Homo sapiens: one gene and its partners. The protein of the gene in region 2 purifies or fractionates together with the protein of the main gene of each other region. This does not show direct contact. Each region holds a gene or a part of one and is shown on either strand. Other genes may lie near its edges.

Region 1 (4,612 bases), on a different chromosome or scaffold from region 2:
TAACAACCACCCCATCTAAAGGGGGAAGGGTGTAGAATAAGCGATTGCTGTGGCTTGGTAAAGGATCGAAATGTCAACTGGCAAAAAAGACCTTGATCAAACCAAGCTCAAATCTAGCTGCAAAACATTTTGTTTTAAACGCAGCCGGCGAGTCTTCTTTGGTGTTACAACGGCGAAAAATAAAAGAGAAGTCCTCTTCCCTTCCTCCAAAGAGGCATCCCTCTCCCAAGGCGAATCCCACTTTAATTTCTATTCCCCCCCCCCCAAAAAAAATCATAATAAATCCACAAATTCTTACTAATGTATCTGCTGTAACAAAGGAGAGATGGCAACAGCAATTGCTCCGAGCAGATGGCTCCTATGCTGGGTTTTCAGGGGAGGGGAGAACCACTTTATATATTTATTTATTTATTTAAATTTTTTAAAATATAACATAAATATTCGGCTCTCGGCCGCCCGGCAGCCAGTCCTCTGCGGTGACTGGGCGCGCAGCCCTCTCGAGCTCCGCGCGGGCAGCCCGGCCCCAGCCCGGCGAGGTGCGCGGCGGATTGCAAGCATATAACCTGCCCGCGGTCTCGATGGCACCCAGAGGATGTTTTATTTCTATTGCAGTTAAAAAAAAAAAAAAAAAAAAAAAAAAAAAAAAAAAGGAACGGCGACCCAGGCACCGCGAGAGAAAGAACGGCGGGGAAATGTTCGCGCGCAGCGAAGAAGCCGCCCCGCGGGCTGCGGCGGGCGGGGAGCGCCGCAAAGCCACCTTCCCGGTGCAAGTGTGCGGGGACTCGGGGCGGGTTCCCCTGCAAACACCGTACCTGGCCCGCTCGCGCTCGCTTTTCCCCTCTGCTAAATAAACCCAACAGGGACGGTGGAAGCTGCTGCTTGTCTTGCCCCGCTGCCTGACTTTGCCCGCCCAGCCACATGCTTGAAATCGACACGATTTCAGCCGGTGGATTTCCACTGCGACCTGCCTTGTTTATTTAGATAGGAAAGATGAAAGATACTGAGATAGAAAGATGGATACGAGATTGATGGGTCTCCTTTTTTTCTTTTTTTTCTTTTACTATTTTACAAGCGCATCACTCTCTTCCCACTCCTAACTGACAACCTTTTTTTTTTTCCTCGTGGCGGGGATTTTTCACCAACCCCAATCCCCCCACCTTTTTTGAAGTGGGGGAAAGAAGACAAGATCATCCCAGGAGACAGACGGAGGTGGGGAAGTGGGGGGTGGGGAGGGGGGCTTGAGCCCGGCAAACAGCCGCGCAGCTGGATTATTTTGCAAATAGCAGGAGGAGGGGAGAGAAAGGCGGCTGCGGAATCCTAGGACTGGCGCGGCCGGCACCCTGCTGGGCCGGGCGCAGGGACCGGGGACCCGGAGCCGGCGGCCGCCCCTGGCCCTACGGCTCCCCCAGCCGGAACGCACCCCGCTCTCCTCCGCCCGCGCCGTCAGCGCGGACCCACGCGCTCGCCAACTTTTCCCCACTTCCCGGCTCCCCCTCCCCCTCCGCTCCCCCAGCCCCCTCCCCCTCCTCTCCAAACCCCGCCACCAGCGCCGCCGCCGCCACACACGCCGCTCGGAGGGGCGAGCGTCCAGCCGGGCTCGGCGCGCACACACACACACTCCTCCAGCCTGCATGCCCCCTCCCCGGCCCGGAGCCGGCTCCGCAGGCCCCCGAGCCCGAGGCGCGTCCGGCTGCTCGGCGCCCCAACTCCCCGGGCTGCAAAGAAACTTTCCTATGGCCCCCGCCCCCCGCCATGCTCCAGGCCGACGCCGTAGACTCTGCCAGCCAGCGGGCGGCCCCGGCGCCTGGCCAGGCTCGGCTGTTCCGGGCTCGGTGTCCCCAGCCCCAGACGCCCGGAGCCCCATCTCCGGCCCCTCGCGCGCACTCCGCAGACACTTACGGGTGATGAGCTCCCTCTGGGACAAGTGCTGCGGGTTGCCCTGTTTGCGGCGGGACATTGCCCCGGCATCTATTCTGGCATCGCCCGGAGAGCTGCACTGATGGGGGGAGCCGGGGGAGGGGGTCCGAGCCGCCGCCGCGCCGCTGCCGCCGCTGCCGCCGCCGCCGCCGCCGCCGCACCTCCTCCTCTGCCCGGGTTGGTGTTTTTTTTCCCTTCCTCTCTTTCCCTCTCTTCCTCCTCTTCTTCTTCTTTATTTTGCTCTTTCTTCTATGCTGTTTTTTGTTTTGTTTGCAAAAAGAAAAAAAAGGGAAGAAAAGCAAGAAAAACCTCTCGATCTAAAATAAGAAAAAGAGGCAAAAAAAAAAAAAACTGCTGTTGCTTTCCGCGGACTGGCTGGTTTCTTTAAAAATATATTCTTTCGAAGGAAAAAAAATCTCTTACACTTCTTCAAACTGCTTGGCCTCTTGCACTTGCAAATGTCTTCTTGAACTTAAACTGGGTTTTGCACCGGCTCCTGACACTTTCTTTCAGGGTCTGGTAGGTGGAAAGCGCACTTCTACCAGGAGGGGAAAAAAAATGCAAACAAATAAAAAAATAAAAGAAGAAAAAGCAAAGGAAAAAAAAAAGCAAAGAAAACTTGGGGACTTGTCTCGTACCCCCTCACCCCGCCCCCTCAAAAAACCCAAAGCAATGTAAAACTGCCCCGGTTCGGTTGTTTCTGGGTTTTCTGCGGGCTGCCTGTTTTTGTTTTTGTTTTTGTTTTTTCTCGGAGACTGACCCTTCCGAGGCTCTGGGGGGACACCAGGAGAGGCTCCTTCCCAGTTCACCTGGCAGGCTGGCGCCGGCCGGAGGGGCTGCCGAGTCCCCGCGAGCGCTCCCCAGCGCTCCCCTGGCGCCGCGGGCCCGGGGGGAGCGGGGCGGAGGGGCGGCTCGCCCAGTGCGCCTGGGTCGGTGCGGGCGCAGACTGGGAGCTATAGATTGCAACGTGAAGATGGCGGAGTCCGGGTTCTCTGGGAGCTCTCGGTCTCTCTATGGCTGGGGCTGCCTCTGTACAATGGGATAAAATTCAAGTTCAAGTGCGGACGTGACGTTTAATCTGCACTAGAGACAAAAAGACCCAGAGAGTCGGAGCACTGGGGGCGACTAGCGGTGGCTTTTTAACATTGTACCCTGTAAGAGAACAAGAAAGCACACACAGAGACACACTCGCGCGCGCGCGCACACTCACACACACACACACACAGTCGCCAGTTGCGCACACCCGCAGCCCAAGCCGGACACACGTGCAAACCGCGTTTTTGTGCGCTCATCTCCCCCGAGCCCCGGCTGCGCAACAGCGGGAGGGGGTTGGGGGGGGCCACTGGGCAGCTTATTTTAAAATAAAAGAAAAATCGTCCTTATATCTCCTCCATCCTGGGAGCAGGACCCCCTGAGAAGGGGGGCGGGGTGCTGTGTGAGTGAACTAAATTGAATCAATGCAAGTCTCCACCCACCCAAAAGCTCTTTCGGACTTGGACTTTGGGGGTGGGGGCGTGGACTGTGGAAAAGGGTTGGGGTCGACATGGGAGTTGGGGGGACAGTAAGAATCGCTTCGTTTCCCTGGAAAAGTCGCTTGGTAGTTTTTACTTTTGTTTTATGGTCGCGGGCGGCGAGGGGAGGGGAGTAGATGTTGGAGTTCAACTTCCAAAAAGTGTCTCCATATAAATCCTGGTATTACAGACTCTGGGAGGGTGAGGATGACAAAATAAACGACACTAAGACAACAGAATCAAGAGCACGTGAGGGGGTGAGAAGTGTTTGAGACCTTGTTTGAGTCCCACTTGGAAAAGGATTTTCACTCAAATCTTTGTCCCCTCCCCTCACCTTACCCCGATTAACTCCTGGGGTCAAACACGACCCCACCTCCTAAACTGGGTCTATGGCAAGCGAGAGGGTAAAGGGACCGGGGCGCTCCACGTGGGAGAGGGACTTGGACTTGCCAGCCCAGGAGTAGGTGTGGCCAAATCTCCGCAGATACTCGGGTGGGTGACTCCAGGAGGCGCCCCTGACAATCACAGCAACCTGGAAGTCACACCCCGCCCCCCGCGCTCCTCGGCCCAGGGTAGGACTTGGAAATGCCTGTCAGACTGGGAAGGACGCAGCTGCCTTGTCAGCCGTTTGATCTCCAACCGGCGAGGACAAGAGGAGTTGTGGGGCCTCTCCGTGGCCCGGGGACAAGGCCAGACCACGGCCCCCGTGGACACCCCCCATTCCCCAGGCTGTGGCCAACTTTGTCAATTTGATGACCTGGCCTCCAGGGCTGGGCGCGCCACGCGGCTGGCCTCCTCTCCCTTCTCAGGGTTTCTCTGGAGGCGGCCAGGGCGGGTCGGGGCCTGGCTCCGGCTAGGCTTCGCGGGCGAGTCCAGCTGCACCCACCCCACTCCGCCCCCAGGCCTGGCTCCGGCGGCTTCACCCGGGCGCATGGCGAGGCCGTGACGCCTCAGCGCCGCCTCCCTCGGGGCCTTTTCCTCGGGGGGCACACGGGGGTTTTTGTTTTCGTCCCGAAGGTCTTGGGTGGGGCGATGGCACCAACAATTTAACAGCGCCCAGAGTCCGTGAGCGAGAACAGAAAGAGATCCCTTCCAGTCCCATACCCTAAAAAATAATAACAATAAAATGTGCCCTGGCTTGCAGTTCTGTAAACTGTGGGCTCCACGGTGGGCGGACGCGAGGC
Region 2 (3,417 bases):
CCACCCGAGAGCACGGGCCTGAGACCAGATGCCCCTTTCCTCTAGACTCATGACTGTCCACGGGGACGCAACTGGCGAAGTGTGAGGGACCCAGGTTGATAAGGGCAGGAAGAGGAGCAGCAGGAAGGGTGTGTGGTAAGTCTGGGGTGGATGGTAGAAGAGGTGGGGGCCCAGGGCTGCTGTTAGGGACATGCTGTCTAGAAGCCGACTTGGGTTCATGGGCGAGTCCAGGCCTCAGGGAGACTGGGGACACACACCCTGGGCACTTCTTCCTGACTTAACCAAAGCCTCTTGAACACATTCACGACAGAGGTTCTGAAGATGAAAGGGAACTGTGATTTCACTGCATCTGACGGAAACTCAGAACCCCTGCCCTGTCTCCACTGGAGAAAGTGGCTGCGTCCCCAGGCGAGAAGGCCCTCCCTCAGCCTTGGAATGAGACGGGGGAGGGAGAAAGGCTGAGAGCATGGGCGGCCTATCTGGCTTGCCCAGCTGCTGTTGCTGTAGCCAGCCACCTCCCTGCTAAATCCTGGCAGCCCAGGAGGGTCCCAGCAGCTTCCGCCCGATCCTTGGGAGGGGCTCTGTGAGGAGCAGGTCCCCCACAGCATGGCCGTGGCGTGGGTTGGAAGAGGATGGTTTATTGTCTGGGTGGATTGGTGGCTCAGGCACGTGGGCATCTTCCGTGCTACACTGGGCGCCTGGTGGCCTTTCAGGAACGGTTCCACGGGGGGGGGGCCCCAGTGTGGCTCCCTCAGCCCACCTGGGCCCACGTGAGGAAGGCTGGGATGTCCCGTACAGGAACATTCCTTGTGAGCGCCTTCACACGCAGGTTCCGGTCATCCGTCAACAGCACCACCTCCCGCAGTAGCCGGATTGGCTCCTCTGTGGGCATGAGAGAGCAGAAGGCTGTCACTGAGGACAGGAGGCAGAGGGCTGGCTGCTCTTCTCACCCTGGAGAATGTGGTCCTGGGGAGGGGGTGCCACGCTAGCCGTGTCTTGGCTCTTCTACCAGTCCTTTCCTCCGTCCGGGCTCTCAGCCCCGGGGACCCTCCCCTGCTGGCCTAGAGAGGGCTGCACTGGGCTTCTGCCTTGACTCCGGCCTCCCATACAGGACTCTCTTCTGCCTAGTTCCCAAAAGCTGCCCAAACCCGTCAGCCTCCCAGGACCCTAAACTGAGGGAATAGAAGCAGCCCCTTGACCTCTACTCCTTTTTACCACATGGCTGGCCCCCAGATCACAACACCGCTCTCCCCACACCCCACTTTTTTTTTTTTAACAAGTCCTCTCCCTCTAAAAGCCAGCAGGTTGAAGCTTTACGCATCCAGAGGCAGAAAACTAAAGATGGAACAGAAAATGTATCCAGGGTTTTCCAGATGTGGGGAGAGGGGTTAAGGGAGCCCTGAGGAGAGGAGAGGGTAAGGGTCTTGGCAGAATTGTGCCAAGGGCACACCAAGGCTTTGGCCAACCGGTCGCCCCTGCTAAGTAACAGTAATCCATGTATACAGGCGAAAGTCTCTAAGAGGACAGAAGAGTAAAAAGGAAGAGTAGAGTTAAGATGATGATCCCAGTTCTCCGTCTTGTACCCCAGGGAAGACCTGTGTATCCTTCCAGGTTTCTTTAGGCACATTTACAAGTACATACACTTGGACATATAACCTTTTTTTCCTACAGCATCATGATCATATTAGCCACACTTTCAGAGTATATACTTAAAAGGTCTTGCTATAGTGGCACAGATATCTTTCATTCTTTTTAGATGACTTTTTTTTTTTTTAAGCACAGTCTCTCCACTACCTCTCTTTCCCTAACTCCCTAATCTTTAACACATTGGAGAGAATTTAAGCCAGGGACAAGCACTCACACAAGTGACATCCCTACCCTGACAGGCCTGCTTGGGTGGCAGGTCTACTCGTCAGTCCCAGGCTGGGCATTTCCTGACAGAGGTCCAGGTCCGGCAGACAGCAAGGCACAGGAAGTGTCCTGCTGTGCTCACTGACTGCGTGGGCTGGCGGGGGTGGGGGGCTGCAAATATCCATGTCGGACCTGAGCAGTCTCAGGCTTGCCAGCTCCAGGCAGGGAGGCTGAGAACTGGCTTTCAGCCTGGGGAGGAGTTTGGAGGATTCGGGAGGGAGAGGTTTGTGGGGTTGGTGGTGGCGAGAGAAGAGGACAGGAGGAAGGAGAGTGTGAAGGGAGGCAAGGGGCTGTGGGCAGAGGGGAAAGGAAGGTGGCCTCGGGTGAGGGGATACTCAGAGACTACTCAGCTGCCTGGGCCAGGCCCCTCTGCAGATAAGTGTGGCTGGGGTGGTGGTATGCAGGGCTGTGTGGGGCTCCCAGCTGACTGGCTGCGTCTGTAGCAGCCCCACTATTCCTGCCCTGGGCCTCAAACCAGGAGCGTCCCAGGCCTTAGGTCAGCTAACCAAGGCCCGACATTGCTGGCAGGGGTCTGCAGGGGTTTCTGTGGATACTTTGACATTTTTCACAATAAACATCCTCTGTTTTGACACTGGTAACTTCACTTTGTTAGAAACCAGAGACTGTCATCTTGTCAGGCCCCATCCGCCATAATCCACATGATTTTAAAATTCAACATCGTTTACACATAAACATTTAGTGACGGTTTCTCTGTGAATCTGACAAGTTAATCTGCTAAGAATTCACACTGACAAATGGGCTTTGATTACACCAGCCATTGCTGATGTCATTCTGATAGGGGCGGTCCCCCGGATGGCAATGGGTTCCTGTAGGCTGTTTGGGGTGAAGTCGGGGGTGGGAGGACTAGTAGGACCAAAGCCAAAATGTGTCCGTTCTGAGAAAGAAAGTTCTGAGGCTGGGGTGGGGCCCAGCAGTCCTGGAACCACACTTCCCAACAAGGCCTTCAGCAATCCCGCCTACCTTTCTCTCAGGAGGTACCCCTCTAGGAAGCTCAGGCTTGCCAGCTCCAGGCAGGGAGGCTGAGAACTGGCTTTCAGCCTGGGGAGGAGTTTGGAGGATTTGGGAGGGAGAGGCTTGTGGGGTTGGTGGTGGCGAGAGAAGACGACAGGAGGAAGGAGAGTGTGAAGGGAGGCAAGGGGCTGTGGTGGGCAGAGGGGAGAAGAAGGTGGCCTCGGGTGAGGGGATACTCAGAGACTACTGAGCTGCCGGGGACAGAACATAACCTCCTCTGTTTGGCTCAGCCAGGTCTCCTTTTATCACTTTAATGCTCATATCTGGTCCCAAGGGATATGGCATGCAAACCTGGTGGCAGGACAGGACCTCTCTTGAGTAGCGGCTGTGGGCTCGTAACCAGCCCCTAGTAAAGAGACTCATGCAGGAGTGAGGGGCTGTGTCTGTATGGGGAGAGGACGCAGGAGAGAGTCAACTCCCAGAGCAGCCTGAACACAAGGGCTAGAAAGAAACACGCACAGAAAGGAGAGAGCA
Region 3 (4,097 bases), on a different chromosome or scaffold from region 2:
CTTGCTCTGTCACCCAGGCTGGAGTGTAGTGGTGCAATCTTGGCTCACTGCAACCTCTGCAGTTGAAGCAATTCTCCTGCCTCAGCCTCCTGAGTACCTGGGATTACAGGCGCACAACACTACTCTTGTTCATGTTTTTAAGTCCTTATTCTTCCTGTTTTGTCTTTGGTGGGAGAGGATATGTCATCCCTTAAGGTGACTTCTGCACATAGCTAATTTCATCTGTTGTATTGATTTTTCTGGTTCATCTTTTAGAAGGTGTTGGAGTTCTTGGTTGTAAGCAACAAAAAGTCAATCTAGGTAAGCAGAAAAATAATTTATTGAAGACTCTTTACCCTACAGAATTTCCCTGAGGTCCCAAAAGTCTGAGCTGATTGCTACGTCCAGTTATACTGGGGAGACTACTCTGTGTTGCAGCTGCTTCAGCTTGGCACCAGCATTGCATCTGTCACTTCACAGCTTATATTTGTGTGGATGCATGAAGTTCTGTCTCCATTGTCATCAGATGATGAACTTTATTTGTATGTCTGTTTTTTCACATCACTCACTTATGACTCGAAGTCTCATGTGTTTCATTGATGGAGCTCAGGTTACCCTGTCTCAGATAAAAAGAAGATTGGGTTAGTAAGTTTTCTGAGTTCTAACTTACGGACTTATAAGAGCTGTTTATAGAAAAAAGGTTATTAAACTTTTGTCATATTTGTAGATGCTTTTCCTCACCTCCCAATTAAACTGCTGCTTTGATTTGTTTTTCACATAAAAATCTCTTTCCCATTCAGAGATTGTAGAAATAGACTCTTGAATTTTTTGTATTTCAATAAAAAAAATTAAATCTTTAATATAGCTTAAGTATGAAGGATCTGATTTGTGTGTCTTGCCCCATATGGATGGCCAGTTGTCCCAACATTTATTGAATGTCTATCCTGATGCAAAATGTTACTTTTATCATAAGCTAAATATGTATATGTCTGTCTGGATGTATATATGTGTATATAGAGTATGTGTATATTTGTATACTATTCCTCACGACCTCTCAGTTCCACCCTAACCACAGCAGTTTGTGCACGGATACCACAGACCAGAGTTCCATTTGTTTATTCATTCATTCATTTATTTGACAAATATTTATTAACTGCCTTTTGTAAAGTGCAGACTACAAAAAGAGGTAAGATATCATGACTCATTCATTTCTCAAAATAGATCTGAGTTCAGATCTATTTTGCTGTGGGTGTAGGGGGATTTCAAAATTTTGGTTTTATACTTTTAGGGTTGTTTTTAGCTCACCTTAGAGTAGACCCCAGACCTCTAGTTTAAATTTTGAGCCCTTTCTCCTGAGTTTTTTTGCGCTGAGGGTTATAGGAGTCAGGCTGTCAATTACAGAGCTAAATGGAATAGCATCTCAGTATTTAGCAGTGGTATTCAAGGTAGGCTCAAAGCAAGGCCATTAATTAGGTGGGCAAGTGCTGTTTATCTGTGCATTTCATACTATTGAATGTTAGAGCTAGAAGGTAGAAGGGATCTTAAAGATTGAATTGCCAGCCTTTTTTTTTTAAATGAACTTCTAATTTTGGAATAATTTTGGTTTATAGAAAAGTTCTAAAGATAGTGCAGAGAGTTTTTATATACCCCTCACCTGGCTTCAGTTTTCTCTAATATTATCATCTTACACTAGTATCGCAACTTTATTTTATATATGGAGACACATAGTCCTCAAAAAGTTCATGTAGCTAAGATCATAGTTCTAGTTGGTGGCAGAGTTAGGCCAGGGACCTAGTAGGTAGCCTGGGTTTTCTAGTTGATTATATTTGTTATCCTTTTCTGCTTTTCGTGTTTTTGCTCTTTTCCTTTCTTTCACTGAATTCTTTGGGCATGGACTGAGAGAAGGACTACCTAGTTCATAGTTCACTAGTCAATATAGTCTTGCTAATTTGTGCAATAATTTTTAAATCTAGGCGTCCTCCAATTCTTCAACACCAACAAGAATGAGGAGCAGGACATCTTCATTTACAGAGCAACTTGATGAAGGTACACCCAATAGAGAGGTAAGTTTGGAATTCCTTTTCTAGTATACCTCTCAAAAGAAACTAATCTAAAATGTATGCTGTTGATAACAAAATGGGAAACTTTTGACAGGTCAGCTATTTAATTCCTAGGTAGAGTTTTTATTAGTAACACAATTGGTCTTTTTTTTTTTTTTTTCACAAATAGCAGTTATGATTTATGTCTGTCTGTCTGTCTGTATGTATGTATGTATGTTTTTGAGACAGGGTCTGGTTCTGTCACCCAGGCTAGAGTGTGGTGGCACGATCACTGCACATTGCAGCCTTGACCTTCTGGATTCAAGTGATCCTCTAACTTCAGCCTCCTGAGTAGCTGGGACTATAGGCGCACGCCACCTGCCTGGCTAACGTTTAAATTTTTCGTAGACGGGGTCCCACTATGTTGCTCAGGCTGGTCTTGAACTCCTGGGCTCAAGTGATTCTCCCAATTATGCTTTATAAAGTATGGTTGTTGAGAACCTTAATTTGAGAGGATAATATGTTCTGGATTTAATAGTTGAAGTTTTCAGAATAATTTGATAAATTTGTTCAACATAGCATCATTTTTTCAAGCTGGTGAGTGGAAACTGAGAAGTAACTTATTTAACTTATTCCATGTAACCAGCAGCTGGCATTAAAACTCATTATTTCCCACTTTTTTTCTGTGAAGTGTAACACACATACAAAAAGAAGGTAAAACATAAATGCACGGGTCAGCAAATTATCATGAAGTGAATCCTCCCAGGTCAAGCAAAGGAACACTGTTAGCACTGTCGTGCTCCCTTTCCCCCTGAAGGATTACCACCATCCTGAATTTTTGGTATTTGCTTGCTTCCTTTTTTTTTTTTTTTTTAATAGTTTTACCTCTTAAATATGCTTTCTAAATGTAAACATTGTAGTTAAACATTTGGGTTGTCTACAGGTTTTGGCTACTATGAATTATGTTGCCATCAACATTATTGTACTTTTTTTTGGTGTACATGTACCTGCATTTCTGTTGGTATGTACTTTGGAGTAGAATCACTGCTCCATTTTAACACATAAGAAGATAATGCTGATGGTTTTCCAGAGTGGTTGTAGAAATTTAAATTCTCACCAGGAGCTTATGAAAGTTGCTTTTGCCCTATATTTTTGAGAGTCTTTATTTTTCTACTCTGTGTAAATATGCTGGAAAACAGTCTTTTTCATTTCAGCTGTTCTGGTGGTGGTCTTTCATTTTGGTTTTAATTTACATTCTCTGATAACTAACGAGATTGAGCATTTACATCTGTTTATTGCCCATTTGATGTCTTTTGTGAGTGCTTAAGTCCCTTGCCCATTTTCTATTGGATTATCTTTTTTTAAAACTGATTTGTAGGAGTTTTTTAAAAAATATAGAATACTAAGGAGTTTTTTGTTGAATATATATCTTGCAGCTATCTTCCACTCAGTGGCTTGCCATTCATTTTAATGATGTCCTTTGATGAACAGAAGTTCTTAGTTTTAGGCCAAGTATGGTGGCTCATGCCTGTAATCCCAGCGCTTTGGAAGGCCAAGGCAGGAGGATTGCTTGAGTCCAGGAGTTTGAGACCAGCCTGGGCAACAGAGTGAGACCCTGTTTCTGCAAAAATAAAATAAAATAAAATTAGCTAGGTATGGTGGCATGCACCTGTGTGGTCCCAGCTACTCAGGAGGCTAAGGCAGGGGCATTACTTGAGCCTCGGAGGTCGAAGCTGCAGTGAACCATGATTGCACCAGCCTAGGTGACACAGTAAGACCCTGTCTTTCAAAAAAAAAAAAAAGCCTGGTTCCCATCCATTTCCCATCCCTGACAGTACCTTCTATCTTAGAAGTTTAACAAAATGAGAAACCGCATAGGGTACAGGGAAATGATGAAAAAATTAATTTAATGTCCTTTTAACCAAAAACTTAATTATATAATTGAAAAATCCTTTATTTATTATAAAATAAGTTGAAGTAAGGTTTAGATTGCACTCTGTGGTCAAAGTACCTGTTAAAGTTGTCAAAAAAGCTTAAAAAGCAAGGAGATGAAGTGATGACAATGCTTTGTCATTCTAT
Region 4 (4,097 bases), on a different chromosome or scaffold from region 2:
TTCAGTAAATATTAATGTCAGAGTTGTTTTACTAATCTGTCTTCCACTTTCCTTTGATGTGGACTTTGCCTTCTCTCTTAATCTGCACAGGTTGCCTTTTCCTGCCTTTTCTATCAGGTGACACTCCACTTATTCCTCAAGACCCACCTCAAAAATCCCCTCTTTTCTTTCCTAGAAGTAGTTGACCTTCTGCCTACTAGCCATATTATTTTATGCATATTGCTGCTGTCACCCTTAATACGTTATTTATATGCCTTATGCTAGAAAACATTTAAGGCAGTTCACTGTAATGAGAAAATATAAAAATTAAACGGATTAGAAAACAAGACAAAAAGAACATTGAGATTAGGAAAAATAAAGGGAAGTCAGAAGTGGGGTGATCCTCAAAATGCAGGAGGATAAAGTCTAGTACATTAATTAACCAAGCTGTAAGTGACCTGTTTCTCCAGTAGGCCATTCTGAGAGGCAGGACCTCGTCTGCTCTGTGATCTAGTGTTCATGAGAGAAGGCAATCTTAGATGCCCAGGAAAAGCACTTTTTTTTTCTGATTTGAACTAGAGGAAAAGTTTATCATTGAGGTCTTTATAAATGAAAGCCAGTGTCATATCCTTAACCTCTTTTCAGCACTGAAGATCATAGAGCTGTTTTGTAGCACATCCCTTGCTAGGTAAAAGAAGGCTAAATCACAATTTAGAAAGACATTCTAAAGCCAGTAGAGGCTGGGTGTGGTAGCTCACACCTGTAATCAATCTTAGCACTTTGGGATGCTAAGGCAGGAGGATCACGTGAGCCCAGGAGTTTGCGACCATCCTAAGCAACACAGCAAGACATGATCTATACTACAGAATTTTTCAAATTAGCCAGGCGTGTGTGGTGGTGTGCACCTGTAGTCTCAGCTACTCATCTCTACTAAAAATTTTCTTAAATTAGCCAGGTGGAGTGGAACACACCTGTAGGTAGTCCCAGCTACTCAGGAGGCTGAGGCAGGAGGATCACTTGAGCCCAGGAGTTTGAGGTTGCAACGAGCCATGATTGCACCACTGCACTCCAGCCTGTCAACAGTGCTAGACCCTGTCTAAAAATAAATAAATAAAATCAATGGACAATGTGGTTTAGGTGGGTAGTGGGTAGCTCTGCTGATCTGGCTTGATTCAAATCAGGGTTTTTTGATTGAATATCTAGACCATAGAGGAAAGACAAACTACAACTTCTTCAGACAATCCTCTATAAACATGGTTTTTGTCAGCTGAGCTTTTGAAAAAATCAAGCTGAAATGAGTGGTATGTGTGATCCGTCAACAAGTATTTATTGCATACCTTCTAGGCACAATGCGAGGTCCTGGCTACTTTGCAGTGAACTAGACAGAGGAGGGCCCTGGCCCCTGCTTTGGGGAAAGAAGCCATAGTGTGCAATCAAATAAGTAAATAAGATAATTTCTGAAAAGGAATGTAATTAAGTTCTGAGAATGAACTTGATGGAATGAGGACAGAGAGTAATGGGGGAGGGCAGTGATACCTGACAGGTTCAACCACATGAAGAGCCCAGGAAAGTATTCCAGATAGAGACAACAACTAGTGCAAAGGCCCGAGGTGAAAACAAGCTCTGCACCCTTTAGAGGAAATAAGGAAAGCCACTGGGCTGGATCTAGGGACAGGACTGCATCCAGGTGGGCCAAGAGGAGTACGATGCAAAAGGAGGTAAAAGGGAGCTCAGGAGGAGCCTTGCAGGCTTTGGAAAGGAGACTGAATTGTCCTTTGTGGGCATTTAGAAATGATAGGAGGATTGTAAGCAGGAGAGTTAGTGATCCAATTCATCTTTTAGATCATTCTGAGTTGCATAAAAAATGGATTCTAGGAAGGCAAGAATGGAAACAGGGAGTCCAATGCAAAATATTCCAGATGAGAGAAATGTGGGCTTGGATTAGAGCGATGTTAGTGTGGAAGATAGAAGTGGATGCTCTTGATATCTCATTCATCCTCCTGGAAAGCTCTTGGAGGAGTACCAGTACCTGTCCATGGAGCTTACATAAGAGCCAATGTCTTTTACAAATTTGATGTGCCTGTATCACTGTCCCTTCATGTAATCCATTCCTCTGGGTCTGCGTATCCAGTTGGACTGGGAGCTCTTGAAGAAGCAGCCCTTTATTTCCTGCACTCAGTTTGAGGAACTGCCCTGCTTTAGAGTAGCTATAGCTACTAGACTGGATATTTTCACCACTACTGTCATGTTATAAGTGAAAAAGTAGAGGTCTTTGGAAGTTAGTGACTTGCAGTCACACAGGTAGTTTGTGACAAAGCCATTTTCTCTCCTTCCCTTGTTGCCAACTCTAGCAGTCTGGCTAGCTGAAAAACAGTGTGGATGTTGTCACTGTTAATTTAAACTATGTTAACTGTATTTTGTATGTGTTAATTTAAAGGATGCTAAATATTGTTAGTACCCTGATAGAAATCATTTCAGAAGCACTTTTTGCACTACAGAGAACATTAGGTGATATATTGATATGCCAGAGCAACAGATGAGAGATGGAGAAAGGGGTTGGGGTGGAATGTGGCTCTACATTCTATTTAATAAAGCTTGCTGGTTTTGACGGTAGCTTTTTTTTTTAACTTAGAAAAATGTAATGCATGAATATGTACTTGTTGCAATGTGAAATAATGGTTTTTAATATGCCTACGAATAATATGACAGAATAATGGAGCTGCATTATGACTTTCTAATAATGTAATTGTATATATTTTTCTGTGAATGCAGAGGTGAGTAGTAACTCATCTGTGAAAGGAAGATAATAGTACACACTTTGTAGAGTTGTTTCAAGGATGAAACATGATAATATATGTAAAGCACTTTGAAGTTGAGTGACCATTTAATTTATTGTGTAAACCAGGACACTTTTCAGAGTGAAAAGAAACAAATGGGTTGTGTGGTCACCAACTAGGGTGGTATAAATGCTGTGCAAGTGTTTGCTGCTGCTGTTATTCCTATTTCAATTGCTGATCCAATGTTAATTAGACATTTGTGGGCACAGGGTTCTTTTGTTTTTGGGTTTTTTTTTCATTAGTGCCATTGCATTTGCCCACTTTCTTCCATCTTCTGTGGCCCCAACACAGGGATAACTGCTGCAGTTCAACTATGAAATGATGTTTCTTTAGCCAAGATAATTGGTTTTTCAAAGCAAGATGGACATTTCACCTTGACTTTATTAGCACTATACTACTCTAAACATTTAAATAGAGAGAAAAGACAAAGGACCTCAACATGATGTTTTGCATTTATTTTCCTTTTAAAATTTTAAATTTAATTTTGGTGCACGTAATTTACCTTGGCATCAGCAATTTATGTAGACCAGTCAGAAGTATCTTAGGAGAGGTTAATATCTACATGGAGGAATCAAACCATCTTATTGTTCCTTCCACCCACCTTTTATGTGTCTCCTTAATATTGTTGACCTTAAAAATTGTTTTAATGGCTTTGAGCTTTTTGAAAGGAGGGACCAGGTGTTATTTTACCATAAGGAATGTAACACAATGGGCTAATATGTGTGATTCATCTTAATAACATGAGCTGTGGTGGTCTAACGATAAATCTTACAGGAATCTGCATGAACATTTTTTTTACATGGCCTTAGTCTCTCTTCTTGTTCATTTAAAGTAGGTCAAATCAAGCCAGTTTTCTTTGTTGTTGTTAACATATCATAGCTTTATTCAGTAACGGAGTAGAATTTTTAATACAGAGAAAATGAAGTACCTGAGAATGATAAATAAGTTTACCACCCAGTTAACCACTGTTACTACTTCATAAAAAAAGTACTACATGTCAGTAAATTCAAGAAGAAATGCACAATATGAAAAATGAAAACCTTCCCCTCTTTACCTTCCGTAATAATTCCTCTCCCAGAATGATTTTTAATGCCTCTAAAAGGTAAAAGTATCTTCTCTGGAGCCTGACTCCTGAGTTTGAGTTCCATTTCTATTCCTTACTTCCTGTGACATTTAATTTTTGGCAAGATGCTTTTTCATTGGTAAAATAGGGATAAGAATATCTATAATGAGGCCGGGCAAGGTGGCTCACGCCTGTAATCCCAGCACTTGGGGAGGCCG
Region 5 (4,097 bases), on a different chromosome or scaffold from region 2:
TGGGTGATGTTGAACAGGCTTATTTCACCTCTCCATGCCTGTCCCTCATCCATCAACGAGGGTAATCAACAGTACCCATCTCACAGGGTACAAGACGCATGAGTATAAATATGGCATTTATTCAATTAGGGTATCAAATAGGGATAGAGACTCACTGAGCAAGCTGATAGTTCCCTTGATAGCAGACTTGAGCAGTCTAATTACTGGAAAGGCCTGGTCCCTTTGTAAAGAAACAAACTGGCATCATTCAGCTTCACGACCTCTTTTTTTTTTTTTTTTTTGAGACGGAGTCTCGCCCTGTCACCCAGGCTGGAGTGCAGTGGCGCAATCTTGGCTCACTGCAACCTCCACCTCGGGGTTCAAACAATTCTCCTGCCTCAGCCTCCCGAGCAGCTGGGATTACAGGCACGCGCCATCATGCCCAGCTAATTTTTTATTTTTAGTAGAGACGGGATTTCACCATGTTGCCAAGCTGGTCTCCAACTCCTGACCTCAGGTAATCTGCCCACCTCAGCCTCCCAAAGTGCTGGGATTACAGGCGTGAGCCACCACGCCGAGCCAGCTTCATGTTTCTTTTTTTTTTGAGACAGAGTCTCACTCTGTCGCCCAGGCTGGAGTGCAGTGGCACAATCTCGGCTCACTGTAAGCTCTGCCTCCCAGGTTCACACCATTCTCCTGCCTCAGCCTCCCGAGTAGCTGGGACTGCAGGTGCCCGCCACCACACCCCGGATATTTTTTTTTTTTTTTTTTTTGAGACAGAGTCTCGCTCTGTCGCCCAGGCTGGAGTGCAGTGGCGCCTCTTGGCTCACTGCAAGCTCCACCTCCTGGGTTCGTGCCATTCTCCTGCCTCAGCCTCTAGAGTAGCTGGGACTACAGGCGCACACCACCACGCCTGGCTAATTTTTTGGTATTTTTAGTAGAGACGGGGTTTCACCATGTTTGCCAGGATGGTCTCGATCTCCTGACTTCGTGATCCACCCACCTCGGCCTCCGAAAGTGCTGGGATTACAGGCGTGAGCCACCACGCCCGAACTTTTTTGTATTTTTTAGTAGAGACGTGGTTTCACCGTGCTAGCCAGGATGGTTTCCATCTCCTGACCTTGTGATCTGCCCGCCTCTGCCTCCCAAAGTGTTGAGATTACAGGCGTGAGCCACCGCACCTGGCCCATATTTCTCTTAATTACTAACCAGGAGGCTGGTCCACATACTCAGGACAGTAACCAAAACTGAGTCTTTGAGCGTCTGAAGGAAAAACAAAAGAGGTGGCTGCCACAAGGACCCACCTAGGCAGCCCACTGGCCTCCCTGTCTGACACTTGGCTGTACCACTGAGCTGAGCAGCATGGACCTCCCTGATGATCCCAGATGTTGTTTTCTTTCCTTCTCTGCATGATGTCTGACCAACACTCTAGCCTAGCAAGCTTTCCCTGCATGCAGGCTGCACCTGGTAGAGCCCACAGATCAGGTGAGATGTATTCCTGCTAATGTTAACCAACGGAATCCAGACTCCAAGAGCAGCGCCAGAGCTGCTGACCACAAAGGGTTACGAAGCATGCAGAATGGCCAGCCACCAAGGAAAGAACACAGACTCCCCACTGTGGGATCACTCACACTTTCCCTATAGTGTCTCAAACACAGCACCTAGGAGCTGCAGCCCTGTACTTCACTTGCTGTGGGACCTTGAACAAATCAGAAGGCACCCCAGTGTCTCAGCGTTTATAAAACTAAGGGAATGGACTAGTTCCAGCTCTGAAAATCTTACGGCCCAAACAAAGAAATATTTCTGCATTGAAAGGCTCTATTCACGCCGGGCGCAGTGGCTTACGCCTGTAATCCCAGCACCTTGGGAGGCCGAGGCGTGCGGATCACCTGAGGTCAGGAGTTTGAGACCAGCCTGGCCAACATGGTGAAACCTCATCTCTACTAAAAATACAAAAATTAGCTGGGCGTGGCGGCAGGCGCCTGTAATCCCAGCTACTAGGGAGGCTGAGGCAGGATAATAGCTTGAACCCAGGAGACGGAGGTTGCAGTGAGCCAAGATTGCGCCATTGCACTCCAGCAGCCTGGGGGAGAAGAGCGAGATGTCGTCTCAAAACAAAAAAAACAACAGGTTCTATTCAACACGACCTCTCCCACCTGCCTGATCAGACACGCAGTGTAAGAAAACATGAAATGCCATACCATGTGGTGGAGAAAGCCGCCTGAGGCTGCAAACTTCATCTGTTTAGTAGGAACGGAAGCTATACCATCATCATCTTCATCCAGGTCATATAAATTCTGAGAATATAACATAAAGAAATATAAGCAAATGTGGCATCTGGGCCCTCAACAGACATCTAGAACAGGCATGGCAAGGAAATGGCTGCTGGAGAAACAAAGGGACCAAGGAGAAGTGGGCACAGGGGTGACGGTGCCTGGAAAGACTGGGGCCCAAGTCTTCACAGGCTAACTCCCTGTCAGCAAGGACCCAGTGAAAGTCCTACAACTTCCAGATACATCAGAAGTCCCTTTTTCCCAGTGGGCAGTATGTACCAAGAGTCCCTAAAATGTTTCTTTATATCCTTTGGCTTGGAAAGTCCATCCTTGTTAATATGACCTACAGAAATAAATCCAAACCCTAGAAAGAGCTTTATTTACAAAGATGTTCACAGCAGAAGGATTTCTAACAGTGAAAATGACAGGAAAATGGTTTAAATAAAACTGGAATGCCAACTATATAGATTTTGCAGTTACTAAAACATGTACAGTAAATATGAAATGTCACAGAGAAATGCTTGAGTTACAAAGTGAAAAAAGAATGATACAAAATTGGATAAGAATATAACCATGGCTGGGCTCAGTGGCTCAAGCCTGTCATCCCAGCACTTTGGGAGGCCGAGGAGGGCGGATCACGAGGTCAGGAGATCGAGATCATCCTGGCTAACATGGTGAAACCCCGTCTCTACGAAAAATACAAACAATGAGCCGGGCATGGTGGCATGCGCCTGTAGTCCCAGCTACTCGGGAGGCTGAGGCAGGAGAATGGTGTGAACCCGGGAGGCGGAGCTTGCAGTGAGCCGAGATCGTGCCACTGCACTCCAGTCTGAGTGACAGAGCGAGACTCGGTCTCAAAAAAAAAAAAAGAATATATAACCACAACCACAACTATGAGTTAAGTAAAAAACAGACTGGGGCTGGGCACAGTGGCTCACGCCTGTAATCCCAGCACTTTGGGAGGCCAAGGTGGGCGAATTACCTGAGGTCAGGAGTTCGAGATCAGCCTGACCAACATGGAGAAACACCGTCTCTACTAAAAATACAAAATTAGCCAGGCGCGGTGACTCATGCTTGTAATCCCAGCTACTTGGGAGGCAGAGGCAGGAGGATCGATTGAACCCAGGAGTTCGAGACCAGCCTGGGCAACATGACAAGACTCCATCTCTACAAAAATTAGCCAGATGTGGTGGTATGCACCTGTGATCCCAGCTACTCAGGAGGCTGAGGTGGGAGGATCATTTGAGCCCAGAAACTCAAGGCTGCAGTGAGCCATGACTGCACCACTGCACTCCAGCCTGGGGGACAGAGTGAAACCCTGTATCAAAAAAAAAGAAGCGTACATGTAAGGAACTATGGCAAAATTTCAACAGTGACTGGCTTTGGAGAATAGGAACTTGAGGGACTTTTTGGCAAGTTTTCTATATTAAGCACATAGAACTTTTATTTAAAAAAATTAGGCCGGGCGCGGTGGCTCACACCTGTAATCCCAGCTCTCAGGGAGGCTAAGAGGCGGGAGGATAGCTTGAGCCCAGGAGTTCGAGACCTGCCTGGGCAATATAGCGAGACCCCGTTCTCCAGAAAAAGGAAAAAAAAACAAAACAAAAGACAAAAAAAAAAAAAGCGTAAAAAAATTAAAAAAAACAAACAAAACTTTTTTTAGCCTCTCTGCCCCCTATGCCTCCCTTCCTCTATTAAGAAGTTTCTTCTTGGCTGGGTGTGGTGGCTCACGCCTGTAATCCCAGCACTTTGGGAGGCTGAGGCGGGGGGATCACAAGGTCAAGAAATTGAGACCATCCTAGCCAACATGGTGAAACCCCATCTCTACTAAAAATACAAAAATTA
Region 6 (4,097 bases), on a different chromosome or scaffold from region 2:
AAGTTGGTAGAACCATTTTGGAGAGCAATCTTCTAGATCAAAGTTAAGAATACACACCCACAACCCAGCAACGCTACTTCTAAGCAGATACACTCGCGAGAAGCTTTGCTCAAGGATGCTGCCACATATTTACAATACTGAAGAGGTGCCTATCATTGAGGAGTAAGTTAGGATATTCATTTAACAAAATACTACAGAATATTTAAAATGAAATAACTAGATCTACCAGTATCAACACGTAACAGTTACACAAATAAAAACAAATGATTTTAGGGCTGGGCACAGTGGCTCACACCTGTAATCCCAGCACTTTGGGAGGCCGAGGTAGGTAGATCACTTAAGGTCAGGAGTTTAAGACCAGCCTGGCCAACATGGTGAAACCCCATCTCTACTAAAAATACAAAAAAAATTAGCCGGGTATGGTGGCGGGTGCCTATAATCCCAGCCACTCGGGAGGCTGAGGTGGGAGAACTGATTGAACCCGGGAGGCGGAGGTTACGGTGAGCTGAGATGGTGCCACTGCACTCTAGCCTGGGTGACAGAGAGAGACTGTCTCAAAAAAATTAAAAAAAAAAAAAAAAGATTTTAGAAGTTATAAAACATTGGACACACGTGTGTTAACCAAGAAAAATAAAATAAAACCAAAATAACAATGGTGAGGACATGCAGGCTCCTGTTAAGAGATGCCAGCGGGGATCAAAAGCAAAGCCCTGAAGCCAGTCTTTATCCAAAAGAAAGTCAGGTAATAGGTATCAAAATAGTCCTGGTCTTTGGGTCATAGGACTAGGAAGTTAGTTCCTCCTGAGTGAAGTAAACATATATTTTAAAAACTCACAGAAAGGGACGCCTCCTGAGGGCCTCAAATCTAAGCTGGACAAAGTGCCCACTTAGATGTGAATACCCCTTTAGCAGTCCAACAGGGGCCTTCAGACTGTGAGATGCAGGCACAGCAGAGCCACCCAGAAGCCAGGCTCTTCAATTAAGGACAGTGGCATTATCAGCAAAGCACCCAAGCATGCCTCTGTGGACATCTGTCCTATTGACGTTCAATGAAGTATGCAGGGTCCTCCCAGACCACTAACTAATTTCTGTCTCAGGGGTCACATTTGAGCAGCCAGAGTCTCAAGCCACAGAGAGAAAGATGGAGCAGTCCTCAGATCAGGCCAGAGGCTGGGCCACCTTAGGGGAGCGGGAGCACCCACAGGTGAGGTTACCTCACAGACGCCACATCGCCGGCGCTTAAAGGCGTTCTCCTTGTCTTCTCTGTCATCCTTTTCAATTTGCTCTGCGAAGAAAGTATCGAAGATCTGGTAGACCAGCTTGGTGGTGGTGGCTTTCGTGGGTCCCCTGTCCTTCTCCCTGGTAGAATGCCTGATGGTCTGCCGCCTCGCCTGGGCTCGCCTACGGGAGAGGTTCCAGCATCTCAGAGGACTGGGACAGAGGATGTGGGCCATGCTCTACCCTCCCCGGTCTCCAGTCTTCACTCTGGTCCCTGCCGCATCCTTACCTCTGTCCCAGCGTGACCCCAGCCAGCTTGATCAGGTCCCGCATGCAGGGTGTCAGGAAGATGGGCTGCTCATCACTGTCCCCGGCCTCGTCATAACTCTCCACCTGCTCCACCACAAACTGCGCGTGTCGCAGGAGGGAGTCCTCTGTGAAGCGGTTCAAGTTGAGGCCAGAAGGAGGAACCGTGGTCTTGAAAGAGAACAGGTTTCTCTCATGCTTAAGCCAAACTGGCCTAAATCCAACTGAAGAACAGTGTCTGCTGGTTCTGAAGGCAAGTTTCCAGTGGGAATCCCGGATGCTGAGGACCCTCGATCTCTTACCTCGATCTTGTTGATCAGGTCCTCATAGGTCGAGTCGGAATTGCTCTGCAGGAACTCCACCACAATCTTGCTGATGTAGATCTTCTCCTGCATCAGCCCAAATATGGGCGCATACTCGGGACTGGGATCCATCAGAATGTATTCGGCAAATGCTGGGGTGAACAGAGGAGGTGTGGAAAAGGGGCTGGAATCTGATGGCGCCTACAGTGGCCACAGGGCATGGAGGAGTCTACCAAACTCACCCAACAGTCTAAAAGTCATCCCGTACCCAAATGTCAGAAACATAGGGCACAACACATCATAGCTGGCTTGTTCTGAAGAAGCCTGTCTGAGCCAGCCAGAGAGCGAAGACTAGCTGAGTAGGCCTTCATTGAGCTCATCTCTGGTGTTTGGAATTCAGTCTGGGTTTGGGTTGCAAGAATAAGACCTGCTCTTTTTTTTTTTTCAGGGGAGGACAGAGTCTTGCTCCGTCACCCAGGCTGGAGGGCAGTGGCGTGATCTCGGCTCACTGCAACCTCTGTCTGCTGGGTTCACGTGATTCTCCTGCCATAGCCTCCCAAGTAGCTGGGATTACAGGTATGCACCACCATGCGTGGCTAATTTTTGTATTTTTGGTAGAGAGGGGGTTTCACCATGTTGGCCAGGCTAGGCTGGTCTCGAATTCCTGGCCTCAAATGATCCCCCCAACTCGGCCTCCCAAAGTGCTGGGATTACAGGTGTGAGCCACCATATCCGGCCAAGACCTGCTCTTACAACTGGAGAGTCAGTTCCAGAGCCAGTCATAACTAACACAAGAGGCTACCCCAACTGAACCTGCTAAGGTTCCCAGTCACATGGCCTTCTGCAAGCCTGCTGAGAATTCCCACCAGAGCCCCGTCAGCCCCCAGGAAGGAGAACATGAAGGCCCCTTTCAGACCCCGGCCAGCCTATGATGGGCCACACACTTACAGGTGCTGAAGCCGATGAGGGCCTTTTCACCTCCATCAAAGCCAGTGATCCACCATTCATTTATGGGGCCAAGATTTTTGCCATTAACACCACCTAGAGCAGAAAAAGGAAATGGACTAAAGGCTCTGACTCACATCCCAAACCCAGGAGGCGCTCTAAGCGCCCACTCAGCAGACATCCCATCAGCCAGGTCGGGTGCTCCTCAGTCATCACAATGACTTGGCCTACAGCTGCTCCTGGCACAAAGTCTCACACCCTAACTTTAAGAGGCAGCAGCAACTCCAGCTGACTATTGCTTCATAAGTATGTTTTTTATTTATACATATATATAAGTATATATGTATACTATATATATATGCTATATATTTTTTTTTAATAGAGGCAGGCTCTTGCTATGTTGTCCAGGCTCGTCTCAAACTCCCGGGCTCAAGTGATCCTCTGGCCTCAGACCCCCAAAGTGCTAGGATTACAGATGTGAGCCACCCTGCCTGGCTGTTTTTAAAGTGTGCCCCAAACATAATCCCGGACTATTCCTTACCTTCAAGAGATGGGTCATCATCATAGATTGGTTTTGCTGAACCAGAAAAGAAGAGTTCGATATTCTTCTCGATGAGGCCGGTGTCGATGGGACACAGGTGACCGTGCTTACAGTACACACTAGACAGGAAACAAAGCACATGCTTACCAGCTAAGCCGTGAAGGCGGGTCTTCGTGCAGACTTCAGATCAGGCACGAGGCAATGAGAGAATGTACAAGTCTGACACTCTTTTTTTGTTTGTTTTTGAGACAGAGTCTTGCTCTATCCCTCAGGCTGGAGCGCGATGGCATAATCTTGGCTCACTGCAGCCTCCACCTCCCGGGTTCAAGTAATTCTCCTGCCTCAGCCTCCCGAGTAGCTGGGATTACAGGCCTGAACCACCATGCCCGGCTAATTGTTGTATTTTTAGTAGGGACGGGGTTTCACTATGTGTAGCAGGCTGGTCTCAAACTCTTTATCTCCAGTGATCTACCCACCTCAGCCTCCCAAAGTGCTGGGATTACAGGCTGAACCACCATGCCTGGCCCCGACACTCATTTTTTGGTTGCGGGAACACTGGATTAAGACAGCGTTCTATCACCCAGAGTTTCTACCTTATTCTCCCACCTAAGCATCAAGTGTATGTGTGTCTGCAACAGCAACACCAAAAGATCAGTCAGACTTACAGTGCGGGAAATACCGGTTTCTAGAACACCTTCTACTATGCAGTGCAGCCACTAGCTCTATTCAGCTGCAGAACATTTCTGTCACTCAAATGTTAATAAAGCCTCATTCCCATCAAGTAG
Region 7 (4,097 bases), on a different chromosome or scaffold from region 2:
CACACATTGAGAGACATTATAGAAAATAGCTGTTCTGCAATCTTCAAAAGTGAGAAGGCCATGAAATACAAAGGACTAAATAAATGTTCCATACTTAAGAAGACTAAAAAGACATGACAACCAAATGCAATATGTGATTGGTCAGAAATAAAAATTAATGGGGCAACTGCTTTTGAAAATTCTATTAATATTATGGTTACCGAAGATGTTAGCAGCTGGGAAAGATGGATGAAGGATATAGGGGAACCCATCATACTACTTTTTCAATTGTTTAATAAGTCAAATTATTTCAAAATGAAAAGTTAAAAAAATTGAAAAAAGTATTTGAGAAAAAAAGAAAAGGCCTATATATCATGTTATACTTATTAGAATTTTTCCCTATTGGTGATCATGCAAGAAAGTTAGACCAATTAAGCACACAGAAGTCAGAAGAGAGATGGTTCAGTTTAAGCTAACCGTTTAAGTAATAGGGTTGAAGGTGGAAGCTAACACTTTTTCTACAAAAAATAAATTAATAAAAAAAGCACAAGGGACCATAAACCATTTCAATGCCCATTTAGTAACTACATTTGCTGTTCATTCTACTGAAAAAAACCCAACATACCTTCCACTCAGCAGAATATCTCATCACAATTGCTCGGCACTGATTGTTATACTCTGTAATCCCCATTTTGGCCACATCCTCTGGTCCTCTGATTCCCAGTGTCTTATCAATTTCATATTCCTGAAAATTTGTGATAAGACTGTTACCACGCTGCCCTATGAAAACAACTGCAACTATGCAACTCTAGAAAACAAAACAAATCAAACTACAAATATTATAGAAATGAACTAGAAGGTCTGACAGTCAACGTTCATCATACTTGAACATATTATATGACAAAATCTAATGCTTATAAAAAAAATCAGAAAATTATAAAGCTGGATACTCAAACATACCACAGGTAAGCCATGGCAATCCCATCCAAATCTTCTGTCAACATGAAACCCACTCTGGTGAGCATATCTTGTAACTATATCTTTAATTGTACCCGCAAGTATATGTCCATAGTGAGGCAGTCCAGTTGCAAAAGGAGGACCATCATAGAAGGTAAATCTAACAGGTAATAAAAATATATCAAGCCATTTAAAAACAGCCAAAATTTAAGGCATTTTTCTATAGATAGCTCTTGTCATAGTGGAGTCTTCAAGGAGAAAAGCAGCAAGATCAGGAAACCGACAGACATAATTGATTTGATATTTACTGGTGGTCCTGCCTTCAGAAAGGCTACAATTGTGGTAGAGCTACAGAGACCTCCATTTGATTATCCATTTTTCATTTATTAGTTCCATGACATAAGGCAAATTATTTATCCTGATCTTGAGTTATCTCATCAGTAAAATAGGGCAATAAACCCCTATCTCATAGTTTTTGACCAGAGGAGACATATAATGAAAACACTGATTAAAGGACTAGTCTTTTAGGTGAATGAGGACTAAAGGCAGGTAGTACTATAGTAGCCTTCTATGGGGTACTTAGGTATAAGTGCCTAAACGAGGGTGGTGATGAAAATAAAGGTGGAAAGAGGGTGACACGGAGGATGACACATAAATTTTACTCAGATGACCTTTTAAAGAAACAAAATTTACCCCAATAATTGAGAACTCATTCATTCAATGTATATCTACTACTGAGTACCCACTACATAGGGAGCTGGGGGATTCTGGGAATAGAAAGATTAATAAAGAGTATCTGCTTTAGGCCGCGCGTGATGGCTCACACTTGTAATCCCAGCACTTTGAGAGGCCGAGGTGGGTGGATCACTTGAGGTCAGGAGTCCGAGACCAGCCTGGGCAACATGGTGAAACCCCGTCTCTACTAAAACACAAGAATTAGCTGGTGTGATGGCGGGCACCTGTAATCCCAGCTACTCGGGAGGCTGAGGCAGGAGAATCACTTGCATCCGGGAGGCAGAGGTAGCAGTGAGCAGAGATTGCACCACTGCCCTCCAGCCTGGATGACAGTGCGAGACTCCATCTCAAAAAAAAAAAAAAAAAAAAAGTATCTGCTTTAATGGAATTCAGTCTAAGAAATGACTATTCTTAAGGGAACTTAACCTAAAAAATTCACATACTTTGGTTTATGTTTTGATTGCTTTAAGCATTCCTGAAAACAATTAAATTCAGTCCAAAACTCCAAGATTTTCTCTTCTTCAGCAGGAAAATTTATGTTTTCTGGAACTTGTTGAAGCATTTTGTTGCTGCAAAAGAAATCAAATTTATTACTGTCAAAAGAGAAATCTAGGAATAACAGAGTACCATATTATTAACATGGGTGTACATGACACTATCCATACTTTTAAAAAATTACAGCTTTATTGATGTACAATTTACATAGTGTAATGTAAAAAGTGTACAATTCAGTGGCTTTTTAGTATATTTACAAGGTAGTATAACTAGTAATACCTAATTTCAAAACGTTTTCAACCTCCCCTCCCCACCAAAACACCCCAAAACCATTAGCAGTCACTCCCCATTCTTTCTTCTCCATAGCCAGTGGCAACGATTTATCTTCTTTCTGTCCCTGCAGATTTACCTATTCTGGACATTTCATATAAATGGGAAAATTTATAGGAATCATCTATATGTGGCCTATTGCATCTGGTTTCCTTTCTCTAGCATGTTTTCAAGGCTCATCCATGATGTAATATGTATTCATACTTCATTACTTTTGATAGCTGAATAGTATTCCATTTCATGAATATGCCACATTTTGTTTATCCATTCATCATTTCTTGGATACCTGTATTGTTTCCACTTTTTGGTTATTACGAATAACGCTGCTATGAACATTCACATACAAAATTTTGTGTGGATCTATGTTTTCATTTCTCTTGGGTTTGTAGCTAGAAGTAGAATTTCTGGGTCACATGATAATTCTGTATTTAACTTTTTGAGAAAATGCCAAAATTTTTCCAAAGTGACTGTACTATTTTACATTCCCTCAGCAGTGAATGAGGATTCTAATTTCTTCAGATCTTACCCAACACATCTTATTGTCCATCTTTGAATTACAGTCATTCTAGGAGATGTTAAGTAGTATCTTGTGGTTTTGATTTGCATTTCCCTAAGGACTAATGATGCTGAGCATCTTTCCACATGCTTATTGGCCATTTGCGTATCCACGTTGGATAGATATTTATCCTTTGCCTATTTTCTAATTGGGCTCTTTTTGTGGTTGGGTTTTAAGGGTTATGTATACATCCTGGATACAAATCCTTTATCAGATATATGATTTATAAAAAATTTCTCCTGTTCTGTGGGCCGTCTTTTTATTTTCTTGATGGCATTTTTTGAAGCACAAAGATTTTTCATTTTAATGATGCCCAATTTGTCAATTTTTGGTTTTGCTGCTTGAGCTTTTGGTGTCATCAATAAACCATTACCTAAACAAGGTTATAGATTTTTCGCTTACATTTAGGCCACAAATAATTTTATTTTCGTATATGGTGTGAGGGAGGGGTACATGGCTATTATTTAATATTCAGTAATGGTAGAGACAATGTTTCCAAAAGTAAGCAGGAAAATCTTGGAAATTCTATCTAGTGGTGCAAAAAACTCATTAATAATCTGAAGAAAAATATCTCAAAGTAGTTAAGAATTTTCTTACCTACACTCACATGACAGAAATCAGTTCTCTTGAAGTAACTTCATCTTCTCTTTGAGGAAAACTGGTAAAACTTAAAAAATCTTAAAGCTAAAAAGATGAGAATCTCACATTCAAATATAGATTCCAGTTTTCCATTTTACCCTTTTTATTGCTTATTCATGATTTTTATGAAGGATGAGCCCTATACCTTTCTGGTTTAGTCCCTAATGAGAGAAGTCTTAAAGTGTCTTTTTAAATGTTTTGCTAATAACCTCATGCAGAGATACTTGATCAATCTATGACTTAAGTATCTAGTGAGCCACCCTTGAGACCTTTCCTTCTCAAAGTCTATTTATATTTACTTAACAATTCTAACAAGGTGGGTGACGAGCTTTCCAAGTCAGTATCAGATCAGAAGGGGATAAAATTGCTAATAAGGGAACAACAGAGAAGATAAAAAATCTTAAGT

Evidence for each region.
Region 1: the proteins of HIC1 (region 2) and BCL11B purify together in Homo sapiens (affinity purification with western blotting, with the first as the bait; one study listed by BioGRID). This does not show direct contact.
Region 3: the proteins of HIC1 (region 2) and GOLGA4 purify together in Homo sapiens (affinity purification with mass spectrometry, with the first as the bait; one large-scale study listed by BioGRID). This does not show direct contact.
Region 4: the proteins of HIC1 (region 2) and THOC7 purify together in Homo sapiens (affinity purification with mass spectrometry, with the first as the bait; one large-scale study listed by BioGRID). This does not show direct contact.
Region 5: the proteins of HIC1 (region 2) and POLDIP3 purify together in Homo sapiens (affinity purification with mass spectrometry, with the first as the bait; one large-scale study listed by BioGRID). This does not show direct contact.
Region 6: the proteins of HIC1 (region 2) and DNMT1 purify together in Homo sapiens (affinity purification with western blotting; one study listed by BioGRID). This does not show direct contact.
Region 7: the proteins of HIC1 (region 2) and IARS1 purify together in Homo sapiens (affinity purification with mass spectrometry, with the first as the bait; one large-scale study listed by BioGRID). This does not show direct contact.

The regions. Positions count from the first base shown.
Region 1 is NC_000014.9:99,269,262-99,273,873, forward strand, and holds the start of BCL11B (B-cell lymphoma/leukemia 11B), read right to left. Parts: upstream 2,937-4,612; 5' UTR 1,958-2,936; coding exon 1,900-1,957; intron 1-1,899. UniProt on the Homo sapiens protein: Key regulator of both differentiation and survival of T-lymphocytes during thymocyte development in mammals.
Region 2 is NC_000017.11:2,060,741-2,064,157, forward strand, and holds the end of HIC1 (hypermethylated in cancer 1 protein), read left to right. Parts: 3' UTR 1-751; coding exon of another isoform or gene 752-882; 3' UTR 883-2,501; downstream 2,502-3,417. Other genes in the region: SMG6 (telomerase-binding protein EST1A), read right to left, coding at 752-882. UniProt on the Homo sapiens protein: Transcriptional repressor. Recognizes and binds to the consensus sequence '5-[CG]NG[CG]GGGCA[CA]CC-3'. May act as a tumor suppressor. Involved in development of head, face, limbs and ventral body wall.
Region 3 is NC_000003.12:37,249,443-37,253,539, forward strand, and holds part of GOLGA4 (golgin subfamily A member 4), read left to right. Parts: intron 1-255; exon of another isoform or gene 256-300; intron 301-1,952; coding exon 1,953-2,042; intron 2,043-4,097. UniProt on the Homo sapiens protein: Involved in vesicular trafficking at the Golgi apparatus level. May play a role in delivery of transport vesicles containing GPI-linked proteins from the trans-Golgi network through its interaction with MACF1. Involved in endosome-to-Golgi trafficking.
Region 4 is NC_000003.12:63,856,969-63,861,065, reverse strand, and holds part of THOC7 (THO complex subunit 7), read left to right. Parts: intron 1-69; exon of another isoform or gene 70-421; intron 422-4,097. UniProt on the Homo sapiens protein: Component of the THO subcomplex of the TREX complex which is thought to couple mRNA transcription, processing and nuclear export, and which specifically associates with spliced mRNA and not with unspliced pre-mRNA.
Region 5 is NC_000022.11:42,597,518-42,601,614, forward strand, and holds part of POLDIP3 (polymerase delta-interacting protein 3), read right to left. Parts: intron 2,277-4,097; coding exon 2,181-2,276; intron 1-2,180. UniProt on the Homo sapiens protein: Is involved in regulation of translation. Is preferentially associated with CBC-bound spliced mRNA-protein complexes during the pioneer round of mRNA translation. Contributes to enhanced translational efficiency of spliced over nonspliced mRNAs.
Region 6 is NC_000019.10:10,153,079-10,157,175, forward strand, and holds part of DNMT1 (DNA (cytosine-5)-methyltransferase 1), read right to left. Parts: intron 3,432-4,097; coding exon 3,313-3,431; intron 2,868-3,312; coding exon 2,775-2,867; intron 1,979-2,774; coding exon 1,827-1,978; intron 1,696-1,826; coding exon 1,508-1,695; intron 1,402-1,507; coding exon 1,215-1,401; intron 1-1,214. UniProt on the Homo sapiens protein: Methylates CpG residues. Preferentially methylates hemimethylated DNA. Associates with DNA replication sites in S phase maintaining the methylation pattern in the newly synthesized strand, that is essential for epigenetic inheritance.
Region 7 is NC_000009.12:92,287,187-92,291,283, forward strand, and holds part of IARS1 (isoleucine--tRNA ligase, cytoplasmic), read right to left. Parts: intron 3,737-4,097; exon of another isoform or gene 3,650-3,736; intron 2,241-3,649; 5' UTR 2,234-2,240; coding exon 2,115-2,233; intron 1,097-2,114; coding exon 940-1,096; intron 788-939; coding exon of another isoform or gene 725-787; coding exon 605-724; intron 1-604. UniProt on the Homo sapiens protein: Catalyzes the specific attachment of an amino acid to its cognate tRNA in a 2 step reaction: the amino acid (AA) is first activated by ATP to form AA-AMP and then transferred to the acceptor end of the tRNA.